2 separate regions of the Homo sapiens genome follow, and region 2 is linked to region 1. Evidence: fine-mapped expression QTL. A gene starts in region 1. The other region holds a variant in brackets. All regions are shown on one strand. Distances are from middle to middle. Region 1 holds the start of NCK1-DT (NCK1 divergent transcript). Region 2 overlaps STAG1 (STAG1 cohesin complex component).

The links. PIP is the estimated chance that this variant, and not a neighbour inherited with it, causes the effect. A credible set is the group of variants that fine-mapping cannot tell apart.
Region 2: its variant is the best candidate, but not a certain one, in a credible set for the expression of NCK1-DT in skeletal muscle (GTEx, PIP 0.60).

The regions. Positions count from the first base shown.
Region 1 is chr3:136,859,623-136,865,149 of GRCh38, forward strand. It overlaps NCK1-DT (NCK1 divergent transcript), which reads right to left and starts at 2,441. Exons shown (of 3, transcript NR_110177.1): 1 at 2,125-2,441. NCK1 (NCK adaptor protein 1) reads left to right here and starts at 2,586. Exons shown (of 4, transcript NM_001291999.2): 1 at 2,586-2,731. RefSeq lists enhancers at 1,515-1,564, 2,125-2,184, 3,245-3,324, 3,335-3,454 and a silencer at 2,545-2,604.
Region 2 is chr3:136,394,414-136,399,413 of GRCh38, forward strand. STAG1 (STAG1 cohesin complex component) reads right to left here. Exons shown (of 34, transcript NM_005862.3): 22 at 4,336-4,416. Among named protein-coding and RNA genes, the nearest start is that of PCCB, 150 kb to the left of the region's middle. The variant G/A (reference allele first, on the strand shown) is at 2,299.

The DNA.
Region 1 (5,527 bases):
AAAAGAGGGTGCCAGCATGGTCAGTTTTGGGTGAGGGCTCTCTCTCTGGCTTGCAGATGTCTGTCTGCTTGCTGTGTTCTCAAATGGAGAGAGCTCTCTGGTGCCACTTTCTATAAAGACATTAATCTTATGGGATTAGGGCCCCACCCTTATGACCTAATTTAATTTTTATTACCTCCCTAAAGGCCTAGCTCCAACTAGAGATGGTCCCTGACTTAAGATTTTTTTGACTTTATGATGGTCCAAAAGCCATATGCACTCTAGAATCTGTACTTTGAGTACCCATAAAACCATCCAGTTTTTCATTCAGTATTTAGTAGATTACATGAAATACTCAATACTTTATTAAAAAATAAGCTTTGTATTAGATGATTTTGCCTAACTGAAAGCTAATGTAAGTATTCTGAGCATGTTTTAGGTAGGCTACTCTAAGCTATGATGTTTGGTAGGTTAGAAGCATTAAATGCATTTCTGACTTAAGATCTTTTCAACTTAAGGTATTTTCAGTTTATGGTGGGTTTATTGGAACATAACCCCTTTGTAAGTTAAGGAACATTTATATAGTCACATTAGGAGTGAGGGCTTCAGTATGAATTTTTGGGGGGGATGCAATTCAGTCCATACCAGTCATGATAAAATATGCAGTTATTTAAACCCTTAGAATAAACTCAAAATTCACCGCCATTATTCACTTTGGATGCTAATAACAGAATGTAGACATAGAGTAGCTGTTGCCCAGTTTCATGGTCTACTTGTCCCAGTCAACCTGAGGATAGTACAGCATAAATAGGTAAATTTGTGCTTGACCTTGTGATCCTACATATGGCAGGCTGTCTTAGTCCCTTTAGTGTTGCTAGAAAGGAATACCCAAAGCTGGATAATTTAGAAATAGAAAAGGTTTTTCGGCTTATGGTTCTGATGTCTGGAAAAGTTCAAGACTGAGCATCTGCATCTGATGGTAGCCTAAGACTGCTTCTACTCATGCCAGAAGGCAAAGGAGAGCTGGTGTGTGCAGAGATTACATGGCCAGAGAGGACGCAAAAGAAGAAAGGAAGTGCGACGTTCTTTTTAACCAGCTCTGGTGGAAATAAAGAGAACTCATTTACCCTCTCCCCAGGGAGGACATTAATCTATTCCTGAAGGAACCACCTCCATGACCCAACACTGCCCATTAGTCCCCACCTCCAACATTGGGGATCAAATTTCAACAGGAGGTTTAGGGGAACAAACATCTAAATTACAGCACAGGCCAACCACATGCATGCATTACCAATCACGTAAATAATTTTGAAGTTAAATGCAGAAAACTGCAAACTTTTGAGGCTGATATCCAGGGCCAGGATTAAAATAAAAAGTATTAATGCCTTAAACAGTATTTACTGACCATCTACCCTACTGCAAGGCCCTAGGGAGAAACTGAACAGACATGGTTACTGATTCAACGGAGTTTACAATCTAGGTAGACATACAGGCAAACCATTTCAATAGCTCGGATGGAGAAAACACCTGTGCTCCAAGGAAGGTACCTAACTGAGCAAGCTTCCCTGAGGAGCGATCCTAAACTGTGCCACAAAGATGGTTAAGAAGAGATGAGGCGGCTGGGCGTGGTGGCTCACGCCTGTAATCCCAGCACTTTGGGAGGCCGAGGCTGGCGAATCACGAGGTCAAGAGATCGAGACCATCCTGGTGAAACCCCGTCACTGCTAAAAATACAAAAACATTAGCTGGGCGTGGTGGTACATGCCTGTAATCCCAGCTACTCGGGAGGCTGAGGCAGGAGAATAGCTTGAACCCGGAGGCGGAGGTTGCAGTGAGCCGAGATCGTGCCACTGCACTCCACCCTGGCGACAGAGCGAAACTCGTTTCAAAAAAAAAAAAAAAAGAGGCAGGTTACGGCGCGGGGGCGGGGAAGGGGGCCTGCAGCACCGGCGAGGGGAAGAACCAACTTACTGATGCCTCAGCCAGTGGCTGGAGCCCTAAGAATGGACAGACCTGGCTCCGAAGGTCCTCTTCATAACACTACTGCCGCCAAGAATGTAAGCTGCCCAAGCACGAGGACACTTTTAGAGGGCCCTCAGACTCAGCTTCTTTTGGTCTGTGCCTCAAATTAAGCACATGTCTTACATTTCTCCCAGGTCCCAATTTTCAGGTCTGCTTTTCTTTGTTTTTCTTTGTCGCTCCCCGCTCCTAAGAACCTTCGGCTGGGATGACATTCTTCAGGTGCAGAAACCAGGGGGAAGCTCCCAGAGCAGTGGGGGCTGAACTCAGGACACAGTCATTTTTGCTGTTAAGTCTCTCCTGCGGCGCTGAGGAGGCAGGCTCAAAGTAACCAACCAGAGCAGCCGCAGAGGGAAAAGCTAAGACAGTTCTGGTCCGGCCCAGCGCTTCTCACCCTCTAGCTCTCTACTCTCCGCCGCGCAGCCTCCGCTCCCTCCACATCAGGCACGGCGCTTGATTGACATGAGGGCCCGCCCAATCCCAGTGCGGCAGAGACCGTTGTCGCGTCAGGGACCGGGGAAGGGGGCGACTGAACCTATCAGATTGGGTCCAGAGTGGGTTTCCTGCCCGCGCGGATCCGCCTGCCCACCGCGCGTGCCCCGCCTCTCTCCCAAGAGCTACGCGGCGGCGGCGGAGCGCAGGCCTCGTGCCGTTACGGCCATCACGGCGGCCGCAGTGGCGTCCTGGAGCCCTCCTCAGGTGAGCTGGAGCTGCCCGGCTCGGCAGCGGGAAGGTGAGACGGCCTTGTTGGCAGGCAGACACACACACACCCCCCTTCAGTCCGCTGTCCGTCCATACAGCCTGTTACTCGCTGCGTCGCTTCCTCTTCTCGCGCTGAGTTAGCCCCGGGGGCGCCGTCTGCAGGCTCGGAGCCGAGCCGGAGGGGGCGCGGAGGCTGCTCGGAGGGTCCAGACTTCTGCACCGGGATTCCGCGAGACCCTCGGGCCGTTGCCCCAGGGAGCGTGACCCCGCGGCCTCCTTGTCAGCCCCTGGAGCGCTGTGTCGGGCTGAGAGCCCGGGCGGCCGCCCGTGCGAGCCTGGGAGGTCGAGTGTGCGGCGCGCTGGTTGACTTGTCTGTTTTCTCATGAAAAAGTCCTTTTGCCAGCTGTGGCGTAATCCGAGGCCGGGAAGGTAGGGACGTGGTAGGAGGAAGGGCGCTCTCACCTCCAGCCCGAGAGGAGGGGAGGCGTCAGCCTGCGCGGTGCTGCGGGTGGACATCTTCGGGACGCGCCCTCTCCCCTCCCCCCACCCACCGGCCGTTTTCTAGTCTGGGGCTGTGACTTTAATGGTCTGGACCTGCTTCAGATTCGTACGCGAGTTGCTGGGGCTGTGAACTTTTGACTTGAGTTGTAATATGTTTGGTAAAACAAAAAACCATTTCGATAGGTTTTGTAACCTTTCTTCTGTATTAACATACAAGTTAAATTCGCCGTTAGAAGCTCAGGAAGCTGGGTTTTGTTCAGGGGTGAGGACGTAACCGTAGGAACGCTCTCGGTGTCAAACTGATGGACCCGGAGTCACCTGAAAATAATTATGCACGTTAGATTAGGTAAGAAGCCCTAGAAATTAGGAAAGAATTAGGTTAAAGAGAATTTCCTAACTCCTCTTTGGGTAGGGAGCAAAGCAGCTCAATGTCCTCCCAAAACGGGTGTTGCCAAAAGGTACTCATTTTTAAAATTTTACTTTGATAGACGTATGACAAACCAACTATAACGATTTCTTCAGCACCTGGAAACCAGTGTGCCTAGACTCTCAGCCTTCGGCGAGGTCACACAGTAAACGGAGAAATAACCTAAGAAGAAAGTTTTGTTTGGTAATTGTCAATAATATTCGTTCTTTTCTTTTTAAAACACTTAATTTTCTTGTGGGGGGTGGAGTCTGTGATATTCTTAAATAGGCATCCCATTCACAACTTGATAGTAATATGCACTGGTTGATAAATGGTGCTTTCTTTTCATCTTGACCACAAACTCTGAGACTTCTTTGGGAAAATTGTGATCTGTGGAAATTGGCTGTAATATCCATAAACATAGTTTGCAGAGTGTTCACATCTACTCAGCTGTTGGCTCATGTATTAAATTTTAAAATGTGTACTTATTTTTCTAGGCATTATCTTTTGTCCAGGTTTTGACAGTGCTTTCAGGTCCATCTAAATAAAATTTGAAACCTACGTGTAATGTTTTGTTCGATACTGAGGGAGTCCAGGCGGGGTAGCTCAAACCTGTAATCCCAGCACTTTGGGAGGCTGAGGCGGGCGGATCACGAGGTCAGGAGATTGAAACCACCCTAGCAGACACGGTGAAACCCCGTCTCTACTAAAAATACAAAAAAGTAGCCGGGCGTGGTGGCGGGCGCCTATAGTCCCAGCTACTCGGGAGGCTGAGGCAGGAGAATGGCGTGAACCCGGGAGGCGGAGCTTGCAGTGAGCCGAGATCGCGCCACTGCACTCCAGCCTGGGCGACAGAGCGAGACTCCGTCTCAAAAAAATAAATAAAATGTGTATTTATTTTTCTAGGCATTATCCTTTGTCCAGGTTTCTGCAGTGCTTTCAGGTCCATCTAAATAAAATTTGAAACCTACGTGTAATGTTGGCCGGGCTCGGTGGCTCACGCCTGTAATCCCAGCACTTTGGGAGGCCGAGGCAGGCGGATCACGAGGTCAGGAGATCGAGACCAGCCTGGCCAACACGGTGAAACCGCGTCTCTACTGAAAATACAAAAATTATCCGGGCGTGGTGGCACGCACCTGTAATCCCAGCTACTCGGGAGTCTGAGGCAGGAGAATTGCATGAACCCGGGAGTCGGAGGTTGCAGTGAGCCAAGATCGCCACTGCACTCCAGCCTGGCAACAGAGCAAGATTCCGTCACACACACACAAAAAAAAAACAGAAACAAAAAAAACCTATGTGTAATGTTTTGTTAGATACTGAGGGAGACCAGGCGGGGTAGTTCAAGCCTGTAATCCCAGCACTTGGGAGGCCAAGGCGGGAGGATAGCTGGAGGCCAGGAGTTTGAGATCAGCCTAAGCAATGTAGTGATACCCTGTCTCTAAATTAAGAAAATATAAAAAAATTTAAAAAGGAAAATAATAAAGAAAAGAGATACTTAGTGATACTTCATGGTTCTGGGTTTTTTTCTTTTCTTTTTTTTTTTTTTTTTTGAGACAGAGTCTCTGTTGCCCAGGCTGGAGTGCAGTGGCACGATCTTGGCTCACTGCAACCTCTGCCTCCCGGGTTCAATCGATTCTTGTGCCTCGGCCTCCTAAGTAGCTGGGACTACAGGTGTGTGCCACCATGCCTAGCTAATTTTTTTGTATATATATATATTTTTCTTTTTCTTTTGTTTGTTTTTTTTTTTGAGACGGAGTCTCACTCTGTTGCCCAGGCTGGAGTGCAGTGGCGGGATCTTGGCTCACTGCAACCTCTGCCTGCCGGGTTCAAGCAATTCTCTGCCTCAGCCTCCCCAGTAGCTGGGATTACAGGCGCCTGCCACCACGCCTGACTAATTTTTGTATTTTTAGTAGAGGCAGG
Region 2 (5,000 bases), 470 kb before region 1:
GCTATAAATGCACATAAAACTATAAATTGTAATTAACTGAATAAAACACATAAAAGATGCTGCAGCATTCTTTCTGGCATAAAGAAAATCAGTGGGTCACACCTGTAATCCCAGCACTTTGGGAGGCTGAGGCGGGTGGACTGCTTGAGTCTAGGAGTTTGAGACTAGCCTGGGTAATATGGTGAAACCCCATCTCTACAAAAAATATAAAAAAGTAGCCAGGCGTGGCTGGGTGTGGTGGCTCACACCTGTAATCCCAGCAATTTGGGAGGCGAAGACAGGCAATCCCAGCAATTTGGGAGGCGAAGACAGGCAGATCACCTGAGGTTGGGAGTTCGAGACCAGCCTGGCCAACACGGTGAAACCCCGTCTCTACTAAACATACAAAAATTAGCCAGGCATGGTGGTAGGCACCAGTAATCCCAGCTACTTGGGATGCTGAGGCAGGAGAATCGCTTGAACCTGGGAGGCGGAGACTGCAGTGAGCCAAGATCATGCCACTGCACTCTAGCGAGACTCTGTCTCAAAAAAAAAAAAAAAAAAAAAAATGTAGCTAGGCGTGGTGGCACACACTTGTAGTCCCAGCTACTTCAGGGGCTGAGGTGGGAGGATCACCTGAGCCCAGGAGGTTGAGGCCACAGTGAGCCGTGACAGTGGGCAACCAGGGTGAGACCCTGTCTCAAAAATAAAACAAAACAAAATCAGTTCTGGTAACAAAATCTGCATTGCCAATGAAATATGTAATATGACTAATACAAAAATAAAACTATCTTTTATTAGGAGAATGTGTCAGACAAAAAAGGCAAGGAATTTCAAAATAATTCTGCTGTAAAAAGATTAAAAAATAGAAAATATTCAAAGAAGTCGATTGAAGAATAGAGATTCTCATTCCAATTATGGAATATAGTTGTAAAAAGACAAAATTTAGGCTGGGCACAGTGGCACACACCTGTAATCCCAATACTTTGGGAGGCTGAGGTGGGTGGATCACTTGAGGTCAGGAGTCCAAGACCAGCCTGGCCAACGTGGTGAAACCCAGTCTCTACTAAAAATACAAAAAACCCGGGCATGGTGGCATGCGCCTGTAATCCCAGCTACCCTGGAGGCTGAGGCAGGAGAATCACTTGAACCCGGGAGGTAGAGGTTGCAGTGAGTCAAGATTGCACCACTGCACTCCTCCAGCCTAGGTGACAGAGTGAGACTCCATCTCAATTAAAAAAAAGACAAAATTTAAATTATTAATAGATTTACAAGGAGGAATTAACTATCAATTATGCTGAATTTTTACGGAATAACATATTCTAAATTTGCTAAATGCAATAATCAATATTTAGCCAAAATGCAAGTAACTCAACAAAAATGACGTCTGTGGGAAAAACTATCTAAAACTCAATCAGAAGGGTGAGAATAAAAGCAATTGTGTAAAATCATTAAACCCTTCCTATCAAATTTTAATATATAAATTCAATCTCCTTTGACTTTACTATATTAAATAACATTTCAAAAAAAGACAAGAGGCTCGCTCTGTCACCCAGGCTGGAATGCAGTGGCAAGATCTTGGCTCACTGCAACCTCTAGCTCCCAGGTTCAAGCGATTCTCGTACTTCAGCCTCCAAGTAACTGGAATTACAGATGTGCGCCATGATGCCCAGCTAACTTTGTATTTTTAGTAGAGACAGGGTTTCATCACGTTAGCCAGGCTGTTCTGGAATTCCTGACCTCAGGTGATCCGCCCACCTTGGTCTCCCAAAGTGCTACGATTACAGGCGTGAGCCGCCAGGCCCAGTGTAACACAGTTTTTTTTTTTTTTTTTTTTTTTTGAGACAGAGTCTCGCTCTGTCGCCCAGGCGGGGGTGCAGCCACGCGATCTCTCCGCTCACTTCAAGCTCCACTTCCTGGGCTCCGGCCATTCTCCTGCCTCAGCCTCCTGAGTAGCTGGGACTACAGGCGCCTGCCACCACGCCCGGCTAATTTTTTTGTATTTTTAGTATTGACAGGGTTTCACTACTGTGTTAGCCAGGATGGTCTCGATCTCCTGACCTTGTGATCCGCCCACCTCGGCCTCCCAAAGTGTTGGGATTACAGGCGTGAGCCACCGCGCCTGGCCTTTTTTTTTTTTTTTTTTTTTTTTTTGGAGACAGTCTCGCTCTATCGCCCAGGCTGGAGTGCAGTGGCATGATCTTGGCTCACTGCAACCTCCGCCTCCCGAGTTCAAGCGATTCTTCTGCCTCAGCCTCCCAAGCAGCTGGGACTACAGGCGCCTGCCACCACACCCAGCTAATTTTTGTATTTTTAGTA[G/A]AGACAGGGTTTCACCATATTGGCCAGGCTGGTCTCGAACTCTTGACCTTGTGATCTGCCCGCCTCGGCCTCCCAAAGTGCTGGGATTACAGGCGCGAGCCACCGCACCAGGCTGTAACACAGTTTTAAAGTGGCTTTCATTACTAATAAAAGGTTAACTGTTATTTTTGTTTTTCAAGACTGAAATTATTAATAAAAGAGAAAAACCAAGAGGCTAACCAATATATTACCATTCTTCTAATGAAAAAGAATTTAAAAATCCTACTACTTTCTAAATGCAGAGATCCTCAAATTGTTACTCAGAAAGGAAAAAAAATTCTTACTCTGAAAAAATAACACTCCATATCAAGCTGTTTGTTCTATATGCAAATGCATTACTCATCTTTACTGGTTAAACAGCTTGTTTTGTTAAGAGGAGATACACAAACATACTAATATCTTTATTTGGTTCTTTATCAAATGTTTACTTCTTAGTCATGTTCAGGCCTCTCATTACATGAAATAACTGAAACATTTATATTTGTGTCAGATAATTCCAATGTGAAGTATTTTTTGTCTGATTCTCTTCATGGTTGTTTTCATGAGTGATATTTTTGCTGTGAGCTCATTTTGCTTAAGGTTTTACTTGTGGAAAATTCTTTAAGGCAAGTTCCTTCAGAAGATATTTAGATTTGATTCTGTTAGGTGGTTGGGGATTACCACCATTATAGAACACTTAATCAAAATCTCAACTTTTTTTCTTTCTTTTTTTTTTACCATCAAAATAGTATGAATTCAGGTGAAAACCTATGCAAAAGCTAAGTCATAAACTTTCATGGGAGATTTATTTTTCCCCATTTTAATCAATGACAAATTTTAAGACAGACTCTTTTCCTTATAATCCCCCAGCCCCTGAAGGAAACTGGAGTGCGTTTATTTCTAGTTCACCCCTGTGGTAAGAGCAGGTCATTAGGATCCCAAAATTATCTGGGAGATGTGGCCACCTATGAGACATTCTATCCTGGATGGACCTTGAGAAACATCCTCAAGGTAAAGCAGGCTTCAGTGCTCTTTTTGGCTTTCTTGATCTTACTTTTTTTCATTTAATCCCTAGCCCACATTTTTCTTTGTTTTGCATGGTCATGGATACATTAAAATTCAAAAAAAAAAAATTTACCCAACATTTTAAGTTGTTTTTAACTTCAAGAGGGTTGTTCACTTTGTGTCTCTAGGTATCATACTACTATCTTTCAATGATGTTATTCTTTTTTTTGAGATGGAGTTTTGCTCTTGTTGCCCAGGCTGGAGTACAATGGCGCGATCTTGGCTCACTGCAACCTCTGCCTCCTGGGTTCAAGCGATTCTCCTGCCTCAGCCTCCTCAGTAGCTGGGATTACAGGCACCCAACACCACACCCGGCTAATTTTTGTATTTTTTTTTTTTTCAGACAAGAGTCTCACTCTGTCGCTCAGGCTGGAGAGCAGTGGCGTGATCTGAGCTCACTGCAACCTCTACCTCCCGGGTTCAAGTGATTCTCCTGCTTCAGCCTCCCAAGTAGCTGGGACTACAGGTGTGCATCACCATGCCCAGCTAATTTTTGTATTCTTAGTAGAGATGGAGTTTCACCATATTGGCCAGGCTGGTCTTGAACTCCTGACCTCAAGTGATCTGCCTACCTCGGCCTCCCAAAGTGCTGGGATTATAGGCGTAAGCCACCGTGCACGGCCTCAATGTTATTCTTTTTAATAGCATGTTACCTATCAGAGCTCTTGTGTCTACTACAGTGATTTTATATAAGAAGTTTTAATCCGTGTGTGTGTGTACATATATATACACACACATAACTATGTGTCTTTTGCTTGAAGATTTTGGCTCTTCCCAAAGAGGTAAATGTATACTTACTCATAAGATAAACCAAGAACTGGTAATAGTCATATATTTTATTAAATATTACAATAATTTATATTATACAATAACTGATAATAGTAAATTATTAAATAGTTAAGCAAGGTTATTATTTCAGTAATAACCCTTCTGCCTACAGAAACTCTTACTTACTTTGGAAGGAGAGCCATCAGTAATTTTCACCAACTGCCAAAGAATCGAATAATGGGAACACTGCAGTGCTTGCACGACTATCTGTATCAAATGAAAAAAAATTTTTTTAATGAAAAATTCAAAAAAATGAGATCATCTGTTTGCACCGTGCTAAGATAATATTTATCACAGTTGTTATTTTATAGTATAGCTTCAAGTCCAAATTTTTGTATAATTAATGAGAATGTATAAAATACTTGGTTAAAAAGGACAAACCAATGTATCAATCTGGAGAATAAAGACACAACATATGGGAATAAATACAGATTGAAATAGCACTATGTTTAAACAAAAATGTAGTGTCATGAATATTTTACTTAGTCAAATTTTTAAAAGGAGACTGATGAAATTATTTTTATCCAAATTTTATAGTTGAAATAACTGAATCTAAAATATTTACCCACATTTTATAAGAAAATTTCTACTTCTTTTAAAGTATTTTAATGTGAAAACAGTCATATCAAATATACATTTATGAGTATAAAGCTTAATGAATATAAAGCAAAAATACCTGTGTAACCACCACCCACATCAAGAAATAAAACATTGCCAGCACCTCCTCCCAATATAATTATCTTTCTTCTCCCAAGGGCAACAGTTATTATGGATTATTTGGGAATTGGTAT